Regions from separate parts of the Homo sapiens genome. Here region 2 is linked to region 1. A link means that fine-mapping ties the variant in region 1 to the expression of a gene that starts in the linked region. Tissue or cell type: monocytes. Region 1 holds a variant in brackets; the other region holds the start of a gene. All regions are shown on one strand. Distances are between the middles of the regions.

Region 1 (8,100 bases):
AAAAGCATATTTAATTCATCCTATAGAAGGAAATGCAGAAGATGGAATGAGAAAGCTTTGTCTCTCTCTGATACAGAGAGAAGATAGACCAGGAGAAGAGATGGAGTTTTAGCTCTTCTTTCTCATTTTGTACACAAAGAAACAGAGGCCTGGACTGGGTCAGGGCCTTGCTTGAGTCAGTATCCAGGCTGAGACTTCATCTTTGGCCTCCCAGCCATGTCTAGTCAGGAGATTTTGTTAGTCTAGATGGATTCTATGTGACATCCATGAGATTCTGCCCTGCCTCAGGCTTTGGACAGTGAGAATAGAGGCTCAGAGATGGATTAGGGGCATAGGAATGGGAGGGAGAAGTTTGTCTCCAGAAAGTCTGGGGAGTGTCTATCACAGAAAAGTGCATGTAGAATGTATGACTAGAACAGAGAGCAGAGATGCACTTGGTCTTTGCTAAGACTCGGCTCTGTTCCAGAGTGGCCACCAGGTGGCACTCCCACCACAAGCCCAGTGCCACGTTGGCCAAGTTTGGGGCTTGGGGCTAAGGATGTTGCTGATTTGTCTGTGGAAGGCACAGGACCTGTAGTGTTTTCAGGTGAGCTGAGTGCCCTGCTAGAAGGAAAAAAAATCTGTCTCTTCTCTGCTGACTGAATATTCCTCTTTGGATTTTTCCTTTGTCTTACTTAACTTGGCTGGCCCTACTTAGATCTTAGCAATTTAGGTAGGGTTGATCAGATAAAAATGCACGTAGAATGATTAGGATAGAAAGCAGAGATGTAGGCATGGGATGCTGCTGGGAGCACGACCCTCAGGGCTAAGAAGGTGGTGGCAGTTCTGAGAAGTTCTCCATTCACAGTGGGCTGAACTGATGTATGGAAGGTGGTGATCTCTGAACTGGTCTAGGAGGAAGAGGCAGGCACTTGAGGGGAATGTCCTGGCTGAGGTTTGGAGGCAGGCAGAGCACTGAGGGGAGGGTGAGGCATGGCCTGGGCAGCCTGAGAAGTGTCTTCTTGGCACTCCTTGCCTGACATGGTCTGCCAAGAGTTGGGCCAGGTATAGTGACTGTCGTGCCTGTGCCTGTGAGATAGTCACAGTGGGCACATGGTATGTTGGGGGTCCCAGATATGGGCCCCAGACCTGTTTTTATTTGCCCATATCCATCCTCCTTAACTTTTGAATTATTTGCCAATATTTTAAAAGAGAGAGTTTCAACAAAGAGTCAATTTTCTTTTCTTTTTTTTGATGGAGTCTCGCCCTGTCACCCAGGCTGGAGTGCAATGGCGCAATCTCAGCTCACTGCAACCTCCACCTCCCAGGTTCAAGTGATTCTCCTGCCTCAGCCTCCCAAGTAGCTGGGATTACAGTTGCGTGCCACCATGCCCGGCTAATGTTTACATTTTTAGTAGAAATGGGGTTTCACCATTTTGGCCAGGCTGGTCTCGAACTCCTGACCTTGTCAGATAAAAATGCATGTAGAATGATTAGGACAGAAATCATTGACCTTGTGATCCACCCACCTCGGTCTCCCAAAGTTCTGGGATTACAGCCGTGAGCCACCACCCCTGGCCTCTTTTTTCTTTTCTTTTCTTTTTTTTTTTTTTGAGACAGAGTTTCACTCTTGTGTCCCATGCTGGAGTGCAGTGGTGCGATCTTGGTTCACTGCAACCTCCGCCTCCTGGGTTTAAGTGATTTTCCTGCCTCAGCCTCCCAAGTAGCTGGAATTACAGGCGCTCGCTACCATGCCCGGCTAATTTTTGTATTTTTTAGTAGAGATGGGGTTTCACCATATTGTGCAGGCTGATCTTGAACTCCTGACCTCAGGTGATCCACCTGCCTTGGCCTCCCAAAGTGCTGGGATTACAGGCATGAGCCACCGTGCCCAGCCCTCAATTTTCAGCTTCTCTTGAAAATCATACTACCTTTCACTACTGGGTTTACTTCTTCATGGTTCCATGGGCTGGAGCTGAGTCGAAATTGCCTTATAGACAGCACAGGGTTCTGCAGACCCCAGCCCACCCACTCCCCTCGTTCTCATCAGTTCCAAGTCTCTGCCCCCTGCAATAGGTAGTAATGGTGGTAGGCAATAGGAATTGTTGCTGCTGTTAGTAGCCAGGAGGTCTGAATGGCCACCAAGCTCTGAGGCCTCAAAGAAGGGGTGGGATCTAGCATGGAGGGGGCTGTTGGGGATTGAATGCCCTCTGAGAGCTACTTCTAATCCTAAGAATTGGGATTCTTGGATCATCGTATCTGTGAAAGGAAGTGAACTGTGTGTGGGTGACCTCACGTCTGCATATGTTATCTCCTCACGGAATCCTTCTATCTCCCACAGGCCTCTTGTTTGAGGTGGGTCACTCCTGTGAAGGCCATGTGTAGCCATGGAATCAGGGCTGAGGAGGAGGTCAGATAACTCTGGAGAATGGAAGGATGAGTTAAGTTGGACCCTGAAAGGTGAGAGGCTTTAGTTGGAATGTTGGGGGGATTGCCCGGGGCTTCTGCCACTGCTTCAAGACCATGAATCTCAGGTCTGTGTGTATCCATTTCTTTCATTCCAAAAGGAGCCTTCTTGGATTGGGCTGTGCCTCAGCTGTCCATGGGGCTCAGGAAGTGATCCTTCTCAAGGTATTTTTCTTATCGATAGAAGCCCTGCATCATTTCTTCCTCCCTCCCCTGAATGTGGAATCATGGAGAAGGGAGGGACAAGAATGTGCCTCCCCATCAGACGTGTCAGCATCCACATGTGTTGCTTCCTCTGCTGGTCCACTTCCCATCACTGGCTGTGAGTGGGAATTGTGCCCCTGTTCTTGGTCCAGGCTCAAGAGCCAGCCTTGGCCTCCAATGAGGCAGGCAGGCCTCTGACACCACCTATACCATTCTGACTTGATTTTCCTATGCTGCCTGAGGCAGGAAAGTCCATGCCTAAACTCTGGTCATAGTGCCTGCCCCACAGTCTAGCTGCCTTTCCCTTTATAAAGTTATTGCCTCAAGTCATGGGCTTAGTTCTCTCCTCCCCTGGCTGCCTGCAGCCAACCGAGAGAGTGGGCTGCCATCTCGCCTGGCCCTTTGTCCCCAGGTTGGCTGGCTTGTGGGGAGGATGGTCTTAAGTACTACTTCCTTCCCCCCTACCCCCCAGTCTGGAAAAAAAATTATCTGGCATCTACCCCAGTTTCCATCTGCTACTCTGTTGATTGGGAGATTGAGCCCATTCCCTGGTCTGCCCTCCTACTCAGCACCTGGTGACCTGGGCCCTATCTAGGTCCTTCTGGGGATGGTTTGGACCCAGACTTCAGCCACAGACAGGAGGCAGCAGTGCCAGGGTACATCACACAGAGAGAAGTCAAGGGTGTGGGTCCTTGAGAAACC[A/C]CCTGAGTTTCAATCCGTCCTGCCTCTAGTTGTGCGATCCTGGCACTTCACATCCCTTGTCTGTGCCTTGATTTCTTCATTTGTAAAGGGAGGTGACTAATAGCTCCTATCTCATAGGAGTGCGAAGATTGAATGAGTTGGGAGAGGCTATGAGATGGCACAGCACATAGGAACCACAGTGTTAGCAATTGTTATTGCAGTCAGAAAACCCATCTTCGTTCTACCATTTACCGGTTGACCTCGGGCAGGTCCGTCCTTGTCCCTCCCTGTACCTCAGTTTTCTTCTCTGCAGTGGAGTTACGCTCCCTCCCTCAGTGAGAGGAAGAGAGTGGAGGACTGGCAGAGATGAGGTAGGTGAATGTGGGTTATGTGTTGTGAGTTGCCATGCACATGGGCAGTGTTATCATTGATTTTGAATCCATTTGAATTCTTAGTTCCAAAAGGCAGAGACAGGTGATTTCTTAGTTTGCCCTAGCTTTGCATAGAGAGGACAGACACTGAGGGCAATACCTGTCTAGCAGGTGAAACCGAATGTCCATCTTAGAGGCTGGCCTGGGCCAGGCTCCACTGCTGGCTTCAGGGCCACAGGCTTAGGTGCAGGCCTGAGGAGGAGCTCTTAGACTGTCCACAGCCTCCCTCTCTGGGGCAGTGTGCCCCTGTGTATCAGGAGGCTGTTGGCTTCACCCAGTGGGCCAGGAACCTCACTCTGCACTGTCTCTGGAGGTACCTTGAGTTTACCTTCCTGGCCTGCTGGGGTGCCTCAGGACTCTGAGGGAAGAAGGAGGGGACAACTGGAAGCAAAATGTAGAATGGTAAAGCCAAACTTCTTGGTAGCAAAACTTTCCTGGTTCCAGGAGGTAAAAACAACAACCAAATGGTCCTGGCCCCATGGAGCAGGGCAGAGGGCAGAGGGCAGCCAGCCCACCGCCTTTGCTGGTGTCTGCAGTGCGTGAATCGTGTCTAGGTCTGTGAGTTCTGAAGGTTGGATGTTCACCTCTACTCCTTCCTCGGCCTGTCTCCTCTCAGTGCAGCTAGACATCCAGTAAACACTAGATAAGTACTTACTGAGCTGGGTGGATTTTCCATTCATGGTTCCCTGGGGCACAAGTGGAAGTGGTAGGTCTGGGCCCTGTCTGGTCTAGAGAGAGGAGACCCTTTTACAAAGGGCAGGCACGTAGTTCTGAGAGGAGGAGCTGATGGCAGAGCTGGCTGGACTGCTCAGGTAACTGCAGAGGGTCTGGGCCTGGACCCCCCAAGGGAGTCCCCACTGAATGGTCAGGTTGCCTGAGATAGCTGAGCCCTAGGCACTTTGCGGGCAGAGATCCCCTTAAGCTGCTTTGACCCTCCCTCCCCCACAGTGAGTGGGGCACGGGGGATGCTCCCCTCTCTACTTGGGGAAGGGGCCTTCCTAATTATATCCCCCTCCACTCACATGGAAATGAGTTTGGATTTTCTGAGCGTACACCAGCTGGCTTGGGGGGAGGCAGCCCAGAAGGCTGCTGGCTGGGAAAGGGAGGAGAAAGGAGAGGGAGGGGAAGGAGCCAGGCCAAGATGAAAAATTTCCAGTGTTCTCCCAGGCAAAGCAACAGCGGGTCCCTGAGTGCTCCCCACATATCATCGTTGTGCCTGCTGGTAGGCTCAGCAGGGAGCCGTGTCCACTTAGGCGAACGCATCCTCCGAGGACCATAGTCCTCAGGGTGCGAACCACTTAGCTGGCCATAGCAAGGTTGTTGGGTGTTGGACTCCTCTGCGCCCTTGGAGAGAGGTCCTCCACGACTTCTACGCCAATCTTTTTACGGGGTGCGGGGAGTGGAACTGAGGCCCAGAGAGGGGATAGGGCCTGCCGCCCCTGGCAGAAGACCACAAGTCTGGCTTGTCCGCAGCTGGGCTTTCCCCGTAGAGTTGCCCGGGAGAGGGTGGCGAAGGTTCCCCCAGCAGTTCCGCTCTCGCTCAGGAAAGCCAGTGAGGCGAGAAAAGGCTGCGAGGGGCGGGGGGAGGGGCGGGGTGGGGTCAGCGCTGGCTCCGCCTCCTGGCGCTTGGGTCTGCCTGCGGCCGGGCGCTGGCTCAGTCTCGGCTGATTGCCGCTGTCGCTCCCGGGGCCACGGGATGACGCCTCCTCCGCCCGGACGTGCCGCCCCCAGCGCACCGCGCGCCCGCGTCCCTGGCCCGCCGGCTCGGTTGGGGCTTCCGCTGCGGCTGCGGCTGCTGCTGCTGCTCTGGGCGGCCGCCGCCTCCGCCCAGGGCCACCTAAGGAGCGGACCCCGCATCTTCGCCGTCTGGAAAGGTAGGCGGCGCCGCGCGGCCGGTCAGGCGCGGGATCAGACGCTGCGCGGGGCGGGTGCGGAGTGTGCTGCACCCGGAGGGAGTGCGTGCGCGCAGCTCTGCGGGTCCCGGGCTGTCCCCGCGCTGTCCCCGCGTGGAGCGTGTGGGTTTGGGTGAGTGTGTGTGAGTGTACACGCTGGCACACCAGAGCCGGCTGTAACGCTGCGGCGAGCGAGCGGCGGGGGCCGGAGCCCCGGCTAAGTCGCACCAAGTCCCTGGCAGCCAGGAGCCGCAACGCCCGGGCGCCAGGGGAGGGGGCGGGCCCCTCTCTCGGCCCCGAGCCACTCTGGGTCCTCTGGCTCGGGGGCTTCGGCGGAGGACCTTTCCCCGCCTGGGACCCCAACCCGGGTACCCTCCTTTTGAGCTGCGGGCTCTGCTGGCGCGCGGGGCGCAGGCTGGGCCGGCAAGGGGGGCGCGGACCCCTTGCCGCCGCCGCCGCGCTTCGGCAGCGGGAACAAAGACCCCGCCGCCTGCCCCCGCCCCCGCCCCGGCCCGGAGCTCGGGCCAGGCAAGGGGGTGGGCATCCTGCAGCGAGCGGCGGGACATGGTGCGGTGCGGCGGCTTGGGGTACCAGGGCGCTGCCTCAGCAATGCCGGGACCGGCCGCTCCCCCCTTGCCCGCACGTGGCAGTTGTCACCAGAAATCGGCTCCAGCGTTGGGGGGCAGTGCCCGTTGGGTGGGGCACGGCCGTTGGGACCCCCAGGCGGTGGATCTAGGGCGGGGGTGCAGCCTTTAGGCCAGGGTAGATAATAAGAACCTGGGGGACTGGAGTCTCCCCCAGGGCACCTCAGTTTAGACCCTGTACTATGGGACAGAAAGCCGGTTAGGCGGGGGTTTGAGGCTTTCTGCCGCGAGGAACTGATCTCCCCTCCCCTGCATTGCACACAAATGCCTCCCCGCCCCCAGTCCGATTCGGCTCTGTCCCCAAATTTGGCGTGTCTGCGGCCCCCCTGTCGTGATGGTGGGGGACTCGCAGTGGGGGCTGGGGGAACTGGTCGGGTCTGGCCCCACCGGGAGCCTTTTGATGCCTTTGGCAGTTTGCAGGGATTGCGGGAGTCTGAGCATTATCTGGGGCAGGTATTATTAGCAGAGGGGAAAAAAAACCATACACAAAACGAGTGGCCCGAACTGCCGCAGTAGCTGAGGGAATGTGACTTGCCCAAGGTCACTGAGCAGTGTGGGAGCCCAGGTGCAGGCAGGGGCTCTGATCTGGCACAGGACCAGTCCAGGTTCTGGGTTAGGGAGGGGAGAAGGATTTAGGTGGTTCAGGGACCATGAATGAGGTGCTCTGGGGACCAGCTCGGCTACCCAGCCTGAGGTGCTCCTGGAGGAAGCCGAGCAGTGCTGCTAGAGCTCCGGCCGCCTGTACATGGAGGAGGCCTGCACACCCCTCTGCCATCCCAGCTCCAGCCCAAGCTTCCTTTGCCCTCCCAGCAGCTTTGCCTTCCCTCAGTCTCCTTGGCTGTCTTGGACATCATAGCGTGTGGGCACTCTGGAGGGGACAAATGGCCACATCTGAGTGTTCTGGAATCTTTCCCTCCATCAAACCCCTTGCATTTTGACTCTGTTTGCCTGTCCCAAAGTCTTCCCATGACCCCCCACCCCCACCCCACTTAATGCACACCCACTTCTTAGCACTTAATGCATACATCCCATCCTGGGCACTTAGTTCCCACCCTGAGGCTATTTAAAGTTGCTTTCAGTCCTCTTACCCACTTTTCGAAGCTCCCAGCACAGCTCCATGGCCTACCCCCCCGCCCGCAGTTCACTGCTGTAGCCACACTGGCTGTGCCCTCTGCTTAGTAATGCACTGTTGAGCCCCGCTGGCTGGGGTCTGCCAACCGTTCACCAGTCTTGTCCAACGACAGTCTGTGGTCTCCTTCACCAGTGCCAGGTGCCCCACTGGCCAGACAGGCCCTGCCATTCACCTGCCCCCCACCCCCAGGGCCACCAGCTGGTGATGGTGTGCCCGACTGACAGCTGCCTCCTGTCTCCTGTGGGGTGACACATGGCAATCGGACAGGAATGGGCTTGGGTAGGACAAACCCAGGAACAGGGTAAGAGGGGGTCTTTCTGGAAGCCTAGAGCTCTGTCTACCAGTGGTGGGTGGGAGTATGGTGGTATCCAGGAATGACAAAATCAGGGATGGTGGTGGTTCTGGAGCCATTTCTCTATGAGGCATAGATGGGGGTTTTAGTTTTGAGTCAGGACAGCTGTGGGGACTGGAATAGGTATGGAAAGTTCTTTATTTTCTGCTGCTTGGATCCCCAAGTTCTAGAGAAAGATTAAAGCAGGGAACTCTGAGAGGGGCCCAGCCTGCACTGATCAGGGAGATTGCTGCCTCTGCAGCTTGATGAAAGTCTGGCACAGCGTAGCTCAGGCCAGGGAGAGAGATGGGCCATCATGTACCTGCTGGGTGTCCTTGAG
Region 2 (8,100 bases), 260 kb before region 1:
TTTAAATATAAAGACATACATAGATTAAAAGTAAAGTGGTGGAGAAGGATATATCATTGATAACACTAATCAAAAGAAAGCAGGAGTAGGTATACTAACTTCAGAAAGAGCAGATTTAGAGAAACAAAAGGTAGGCTGGGTGGCTCACGCTTGTAATCCCAGCACTTTGGGGGGCTGAGGCGGGCAGGTCACCTGAGGTCGGGAGTTCAAGACCAGCCTGACCAACATGGAGAAGCCCCATCTCTACTAAAAATACAAAATTAGCTGGGCGTGGTGGTGCATACCTGTAATCCCAGGTACTCGGGAGGCTGAGGCAGGAGAATCACTTGAACCCAGGAGGCAGAGGTTGCGGTGAGCTGAGATCGTGCCACTGCACTCCAGCCTGGGCAACAAGAGTGAAACTTTGTCTCAAAAAAAAAAAAAGTCATCAGGTTATAAATCTATACAGCAAAACATATACAAGAGCTATATGAGTAAAACTACAAAACTCTGATCAAAGATATAAAAGAATTACATAAATTGAGAAATATTTCATGTTCACAGATAGAAAGAAAATATAGTCAAAATGTCTGTTCTTCCAAACCTGATCTATAGATTCGATGCAATCCCAATCCAAGTATCAGCATATTATTTTTGTGGATGTCGACAAACTGATTGTAAAATTGATATGGAGATACAAAAGACCTAGAAGAGCCAGCTCACTATTAAAGGAGAACAAAGTTGGAGGACTGATACTACCCAACTTCAAGACTTACTATAAACTACAGTAATAATGACAATGTGGTATTGGTGAAAGAATAAACAATCCAGAAGTAGACCCACATAAACGTAGTCAACTGATCTTTGACAGAGGAGTTAAAGCAATATAATGGAGCAAAGATAGGTTTTTCAACAAATTATGTTGGAACAACTGAATTTTCACACACATAAAAATGTATCAGGCCGGGTACGGTGGCTCACGCCTGTAATCTCAGCACTTTGAGAGGCCGAGGTGGGCAGATCAATTGAGATCAGGAGTTCGAGACCAGCCTGGCCAACATGGTGAAACCTTGCCTCTACTAAAAATACAAAAACTAGCCAGGTGTGGTGGCGGGTGCCTGTAATCCCAGCTACTTGGGAGGCTGAGACAGGAGAATCACTTGAACCCAGGAGGCAGACATTGCAGTGAGCTGAGATCGTGCCACTGCACTCCAGCCTGGGCAACAGAGTGAGACTCCGTCTCAAAAAAAAAAAAAAAATTATCTAGGCAAAGACCTTGCACCCTTCATAAAAATTAACTCAGAATGGATTGTAGACCTAAATGTAAAATGGAACACTATAAAACTCCTGGAAGACAACACAGGAGAAAACCTAACTGATCTTGGGAATGGCAATGACTTTAGGGCAATACCAATAGCATAATCTGTGAAAAATATAATTGATAAGCTGGACTTCATTAAAATTTAAAACTTCTGCTCTTCAAAAGAAGAATGAGAAGACAAGCCACAGACTAGGAGAAAATATTATAAAAGACGTATCTGATAGAGGACTGTTATCTACAATATACCCAGAACTCTTAAATCACAACAAGAAAATAACACAATGTAAAAATGGGCAAAATACCTGAATGAACACTTCATCAAAGAAGATATACACATGGCAAGTAAGTATATGAAAAGATGTTCAATATCATATGTCATTAGGGAATTGCATATTAAAACAATAAGATACTACTACACACTTACTTGAACGGCAAAATACTGACACCACAAAACGCTGACAAGGATGTGGAGCAACAGAAACCCTCATTCACTGCTGTGGGAATGCAAAATGATGCAGCCACTTTGAAAGGCAGTTTGGTAGTTTCTCCCAAAACTAAATATACCATCCAATCCAGCAGTTGCACTCCTTGGTATTTACCCAGATGAATTGAAAACTCATGTCTACACAAAAATCTGCACATGATGTATAGCGGCTTTATTCATAATTACCCAAACTTGGAGGCCACCAAGATGTCTTTCAGTAGGTGAATGGATAAACCGCAGCACATCCAGACGATGGAATATTATTATTCAGCACAAAAAAGAAATGAGCTATCAAGCCATGAAAAGACATGGAAGAACTTTAAGTGCATAAGTGAAAGAATCCGATGTGAAAAGGCTGCATACTGTATGATTCCAACTATATGGGATTCTGGAAAAGGCAAAACTATGGAGACAGTAAAAGGAGCAGTGGTTGCCAGTGGTTAGGGGACTGAGAAGGATAAATAGGCAGAGGACAGAGGATTTTCAGGGCAGTGAAACTATCGTGTATGATACCATAATGGTGGATACATGTCATTACATATATGTCAAAACCCACAGAATGTGCAACACCGAGAGTAAACTCTAATGTAAACTATGGACTCTGGGTGATAATGATGTGTCAAAGTTGGGTAATCAATTGTTACCAAATGTACCACTGTAGCACAAGATGTCCATGAGGGGACAAGTTGTGTATGTGCCTGTGTGTACAGGGGATATATGGGAACTCTGTACTTTCTGTTCAGTTTTGCCCTGAACCAAAAACTGCTCTATAAGTGTTCATTAATAACAGTAATTTTAAAAGACAAGGACCCCTTCTGACCTAGGGAATCTCTGGTGATGGAGGGGGAAGGGTGAAGCAGTCCCCTAGAAAGTGTAGATTTTACAAAGTTCTTCAACTGATTTTGTAGAGCTAGGTTTGGAACTGCTACCCTACTCTATGCTATTCGCCCAAGTAGTGGTTCCCAAACCAGGTGTCAGGCTTCAAGGCTGTGCAATATTCCTCATTACACGGTCTTGGCCCTAAACGCATGCTTTCCCGTCTCCCCACAAATCAAGACTCTAAAATGCCAGGGGTAGAAGAGCGGCACTTTCCTGTGTACTGAGTATGGGGGAAGGGAGAGCAGTCAAGCACGGACTGGCTGATTTTAACCCCCAAAAGGGCTGAAGCTGATACGCTTTGAAGATCGACCACGGCAGGAATATCTTGTTTTCTTTAATCCATCAGGGGGTTGTCGCACTTATTAAGTCCCACAGCTGCAGTTTAGCACGGAGGGGCTGTCACGTCACCAGGCCTCCCTGAAAGTCCTCCGCTCCAGCTCTGCGATTGGCGCTGGGGTAACAGGAGGGGAAGCGGGTGCTTTTCATCGAGCCTGCAAGAGGGGGGCCCAGGCATCGAGGCTGGGGAGTCGTGGGTAGAGCCCCGATTCCAGCCAAGACGCCACAGGACATAAGTAAGCGTGGAGGGCAAAATGACTACCCAAGCGCAATTCTGTAAGGCCGAAGGGACGTTCTTCCAACCTCTTAAATTTCCCGGGTGCCACGCCCCTCAATTGACGGCCCTGGATTCCAAGGTGTCGCGCCGGAAGTGACCTCACGGTGGTGGCGTGGAGACGTGGGGGCGCTTCCGGCAGCGGCGGCGGTGGTGAAGGCCGATGCTGTGGGGGTGGGCGTGGAGAGAATTCTTCTGTGGGTCCTCTGGTGTTGAGTGGTCGGCTTGGTGTGGTGTGCGGAGGAGCTCCAGGCCCGTCGGCGCGGAGGTGGGAGCGAAGGGAGGCTACTGGTTTGTGGACGGTCGTGGGAGGGGGCTGCCGGGGTTGCTTTAGGCTTCAGAGTTCCAGGCCTCGTAGACCTTTATAGAGGCAGGCAGGCAGGCAAGAGCTGGGGGCTTCATCGGATGAGCAGGGGACCACGTACTACGGGCGGCCCCAGGAGTTTGGTTTGAGGTGGAAGGCTGAGGACTGCAGGATTCTAAATAGTATGGGGATTGTGTGGGGAGTGAGGCATTAGCTGCTTGGGCCCTTAGTCCAGCCTTGTTGGTGGCTGCTGCAGTTCTTTGGCTCACTCACTCTGTTCTTCGTGCCTCAGTTTCCCTTTGCATAATGAGATACGGTGGCAGAGAAGAACGCCAGTGCCACATCCATGACTGATAGCTTGAGGACGGAGATGAACTGGAGGGTAGAAAAAGAGGATGCCTGAGAAATTTATACCTACCAGGTCACATCTTCGAATCCCAGGAAGTTATCCCTGGATTCATTTCTGCCTTTGATGCAAGTCTGTGGTTCTTTTCAGTACACTTTGTGTGATATTGATTGTATGTATCAATACTTGACTTGCTGAGTGGTTAAAGTGTTTTGGTTTGTGGGAGGCATAGTCCTTGTTGGCTTGGTCAGTTAATTTTCAGTTAATCTCCCAATAGCAATTGCTTCGCCTAACTCTTCAATTGGGAGATTAGTTGAAAATCAACTGACCAAGCCAACAGTCTTCTCCTGTGGTTACAGGTGAGGAACTCGCGACCCAGAATGGTTTTTCTTCTCTTCCTTCGCCACAGACCAAACCGATTTCAGTCTGCTGTCTCAAATACAGGTCTTCACCCCACCAAAACAGAAATGGCTGTCTCCAAGCAGTTTAGTATTTCAACTGGACACCCAGATGGATCCTAATCTTTTTTTTTTTTTTTAATGAATGGCAGATTACGTGTACTGAGCACAAAATCCTCTTAGCTAGTTTCTCTGTATGATGTAAAAACATGACATTTTGTTTATTACCAATTTCTTGGTAGAGCCTCCTTGGCATAGGGCTGTGGGGCTAGAAAAGTGTCTCAAAATTTTTTACCTGTGACCCACAGTTAGATATATTATACATCATGACTTATTGTGCCCCTGCACACTCAGTGTGTACACACACACACACACCAATGAAAAGTTTACTTACCCTTTCTACAGAAGATGCACTCTAAAAAAATATTGGTTGCAACTCACTAAATTGAGTCTGACCCCTAATAGGTCATGACGTATAGTTTGAAAAATATTAAGGCCGGGCACTGTGGCTCACGCCAGTAATCCCAGCACTTTGGGATGCTGAGGCGGGTGGATCACCTGAGGTCAGGAGTTGGAGACCAGTCTGGGCAACGTGGTGAAACCCCGTATGTACTAAAAATACAAAACTTAGCTGGGTGGTGGTGGGTGCCTATAATCCCAGCTATTTGGGAGGCTGAGGCAGGAGAAACGCTTGAACCTGGGAGGGAGAGGTTGCAGTGAGCCAAGATATGCTACTGCACTCCAGCCTGGGCAACAAGAACTAAACTTCTCAAAAAAAGAAAAGAAAAGAAAAATATTAGACTAGGGCCGAGTGCAGTGGTGGGAGGATTGCTTAAGGCCAGCCTGGGCAACATAGCAAGACTCTGTCTAAGAAAAACAACATTAGAAAATGTTTAAAATCCTTGCCATTTGTGAGATTCTGTAATTAATACAAAATGGAAGATGTATCATTTTTCTTTTCTTATCCAGAGAAGGGCTTACTAGAGTTCTCCTAAATTCAGCCAGAACAACAGGACAGGACATCCAAATTGTGGCTCAAAGGAGTGTAGTGACCATAATGATAGTGTGTCAGAATTTTAGCAAGGCATTTATGAAGTTTTTGTTTTTTTTTTTGAGATGGAGTCTCACTCCATTGCCCAGGTTGGACGGAGTGCAGTGGTGCAATTTCTGCTCACTGTAACCTCTGCCTCCTGGTTCAAGCGATTCTCCTGCCTCAGCCTCCCAAGTACCTGGGACTACAAGCATGCACCACCACGCCTGGCTAATTTTTGTATTTTCAGTAGAGATGGGGTTTCACCATGTTGGCCGGGCTGGTCTCGAACTCCCGACCTCAGGTGATCCACTCACCTCAGCCTCCCAAAGTGCTGGGATTACAGGTGTGAGCCACCGCGCCTGGTCTTACTGAGTCTTACTATAACTGAGTGGGCGAGATGGAGGAATTTGCCAGATTGTGGTAGTTAGATGGAGTCATGAGTTTGAAAATCTATGTATGGAGAGGTTTGATTTGTGGACACTACTTACAGCTGGAATTCCGGTGATCTAAACTGGGGTTTCATCACTTTCTTTATATACTTCATGTATTTGAGACCTTATCTAGAAGGTTTGCTTATTGGATTTGGTGCCTTTGTGAAGTAAAGAAAGAGTCATTTGGTTGGTGATTGCCAGAATGGGAAAAGATCTCAATATAATTTGCTCAGTGCTGTTTAATGAAATGAAGGAAGCATGTATAAATGTGAGAAATTGCGCTTGGGTCCAAACAAAATCAACTATACCTATTAGGGGAGGGTGGAGATGTGACCTCACAGGAGTTCTATAATAAAAAGATGTGATGTTTTAATCACCAATCAGTGGTGTGGTTAAGAAGGCTGTGAGAAGAACCGATGTGACCTGCATTAGTATATTGTATCAGGAAAATGCAAAATCTAGAATGAGAAAGGTTGCATCACTGGTAGGCTTGTACCTGGAATATTAGGTTTAGATCTAGATGTGCTAAGAGTAAATTTATGGGCAGAAGTCAAAAGTTTGAAGATATGGTGGTGTTGCTTTGGCATGAATGATTATTTTTCTCCTTGTCATTTCAGGCTTTCAGGTATAGGCTGGGTCACTAGTCTTAAAACATTTCTTCTTGAGAATGTCTAAAAGACTGTGGAATCTGTTAGATCTTATATACTTTTAAGTTGGCACCTGAAACTTTTCATCCTAGATTTACATAGTGTAAGTATTTAATTTTAAATAGTTTAGGATGTAATTTCTGACAAGTAAATATTGACTTCTTAAAAATAAATATAAAATTACCTAAATACAATATCAATTTGATGTTGTAAAAACATACAACTAAACTTTTGAAACAAAGACTGTAAGAAATACATAACATAGCTTATTACATTACTTGATTTTCAGATGTTAAACCCATCTTGCATTTGTGAAATGAACCCTGCTTAGTAATGTATCTACTACTTTTTACATATAGATGGATTCAATTTGCTAACATTTTGTTAATTTTTGTGACTGTGTTCATGATGGATATTGGTCTGAGGTTTCCTTTTTTTTATGTCATCTTTGGCCTTAGTAGCAGGGTAATTATGACCTCATAAAATGAATTGGGAAGTGTTCCTTCCTCCTCTGTTTTCTGAAATAGTTTGTGTAGGATTGGTATTATTTCTTACGTGTTTCATAGAATTTACCAGTGAAGTCCTATGGGCCTGGGTTTTTCTCTCTGGGAAGATTTTACTAATTCAATTTCTTAATATAGTTAGTTGAGTTAGTTTTGGTCATTTTTATCATTTTGGGAGTTTGTCCATTACATATTTTTCCTTTTTCTTTTTGAACTTGTATCCATTCCACTTTTCCCACAGAATTTTATCCTAAAGCAAAAGTCAACTTTCTGTCAAAGGCCAGATGAAAGGCTTTATGGGCCACATGGTTTCTGTGATTACTGCTTAATTCTCACTGTAGTGAGAAAACAGCCATAGACAATATGTGGCCGGGTGCGGTGGCTCACGCCTGTAATCCCATCACTTTGGGAGACTGAGGCAGGCGGATCACGAGGTCAGGAGATCGAGACCATCCTGGCTAACACAGTGAAACCCCGCCTCTACTAAAAAATACAAAAAAAATTAGCCGGGCGTGTTGGTGGGCGCCTGTAGTCCCAGCTACTTGGGAGGCTGAGGCAGGAGAATCGCTTGAACCCGGGAGGTGGAGGTTGCAGTGAGCCGAGATCGCTCCACTGCACTCCAGCCTGGACGACAGAGCAAGACTGTCTCAAAAAAACCCAAAAAAACCCAGAAAATAGCCGTAGATAATATGCAAGTATTTTTGTGTAGTTGTGTTCCAATAAAACTTTATTGGTAGCAGACCAGATCTGGTTTAGGGCTGTAGTTTTCCTACCCATCCTAAAGTAATAAATTTTATGCCTGAAAATTTAAAATTGATCATCTAGTTATCCACACAGATCAGGTTTATGAGAGTAGCATGGAAGTTGATTCCCTTGCTTGCATATCTTTGTGTACCCCCTACGGACATGTGTATTCCAGTGTAAAGACCAGGACTTGATTTCCAAGATGTTGTAGAGGGAATTCATGTATTTTTGTAATTTTGTTTGGGTGAGAAGTGAGGTGGCCCTCACAGCGCCATAACTTAAGTTCCCTATGTGATCGGTATTCTTTCTGGCAAAAGGAGACATTTGAACTAAAATTTTTTATGTTGTAGACACTATATGGATTATCTCATTTAATCTTAAAATAATCCATATAGTATCTTAAAATAATCCATATAGTATC

Alleles and levels. Positions count from the first base shown, and alleles are read on the strand shown. Sizes are in standard deviations (SD) of each study's normalised expression.
As copies of C replace A in region 1, the expression in monocytes of the gene that starts at base 3,397 in region 2 goes up (moderate effect, 0.58 SD a copy in Quach 2016).

The links. PIP is the estimated chance that this variant, and not a neighbour inherited with it, causes the effect.
Region 2: EDC3 starts here. The variant in region 1 is fine-mapped to the expression of EDC3 in monocytes (Quach 2016, PIP 0.91).

The regions. Positions count from the first base shown.
Region 1 is chr15:74,431,276-74,439,375 of GRCh38, reverse strand. SEMA7A (semaphorin 7A (JohnMiltonHagen blood group)) reads left to right here and starts at 5,418. Exons shown (of 14, transcript NM_003612.5): 1 at 5,418-5,635. The coding sequence starts at 5,458. RefSeq lists silencers at 5,276-5,785, 5,836-5,985, 6,136-6,255. The variant A/C (reference allele first, on the strand shown) is at 3,352.
Region 2 is chr15:74,691,321-74,699,420 of GRCh38, reverse strand. It overlaps EDC3 (enhancer of mRNA decapping 3), which reads left to right and starts at 3,397. Exons shown (of 7, transcript NM_025083.5): 1 at 3,397-3,541. RefSeq lists an enhancer at 3,348-3,437.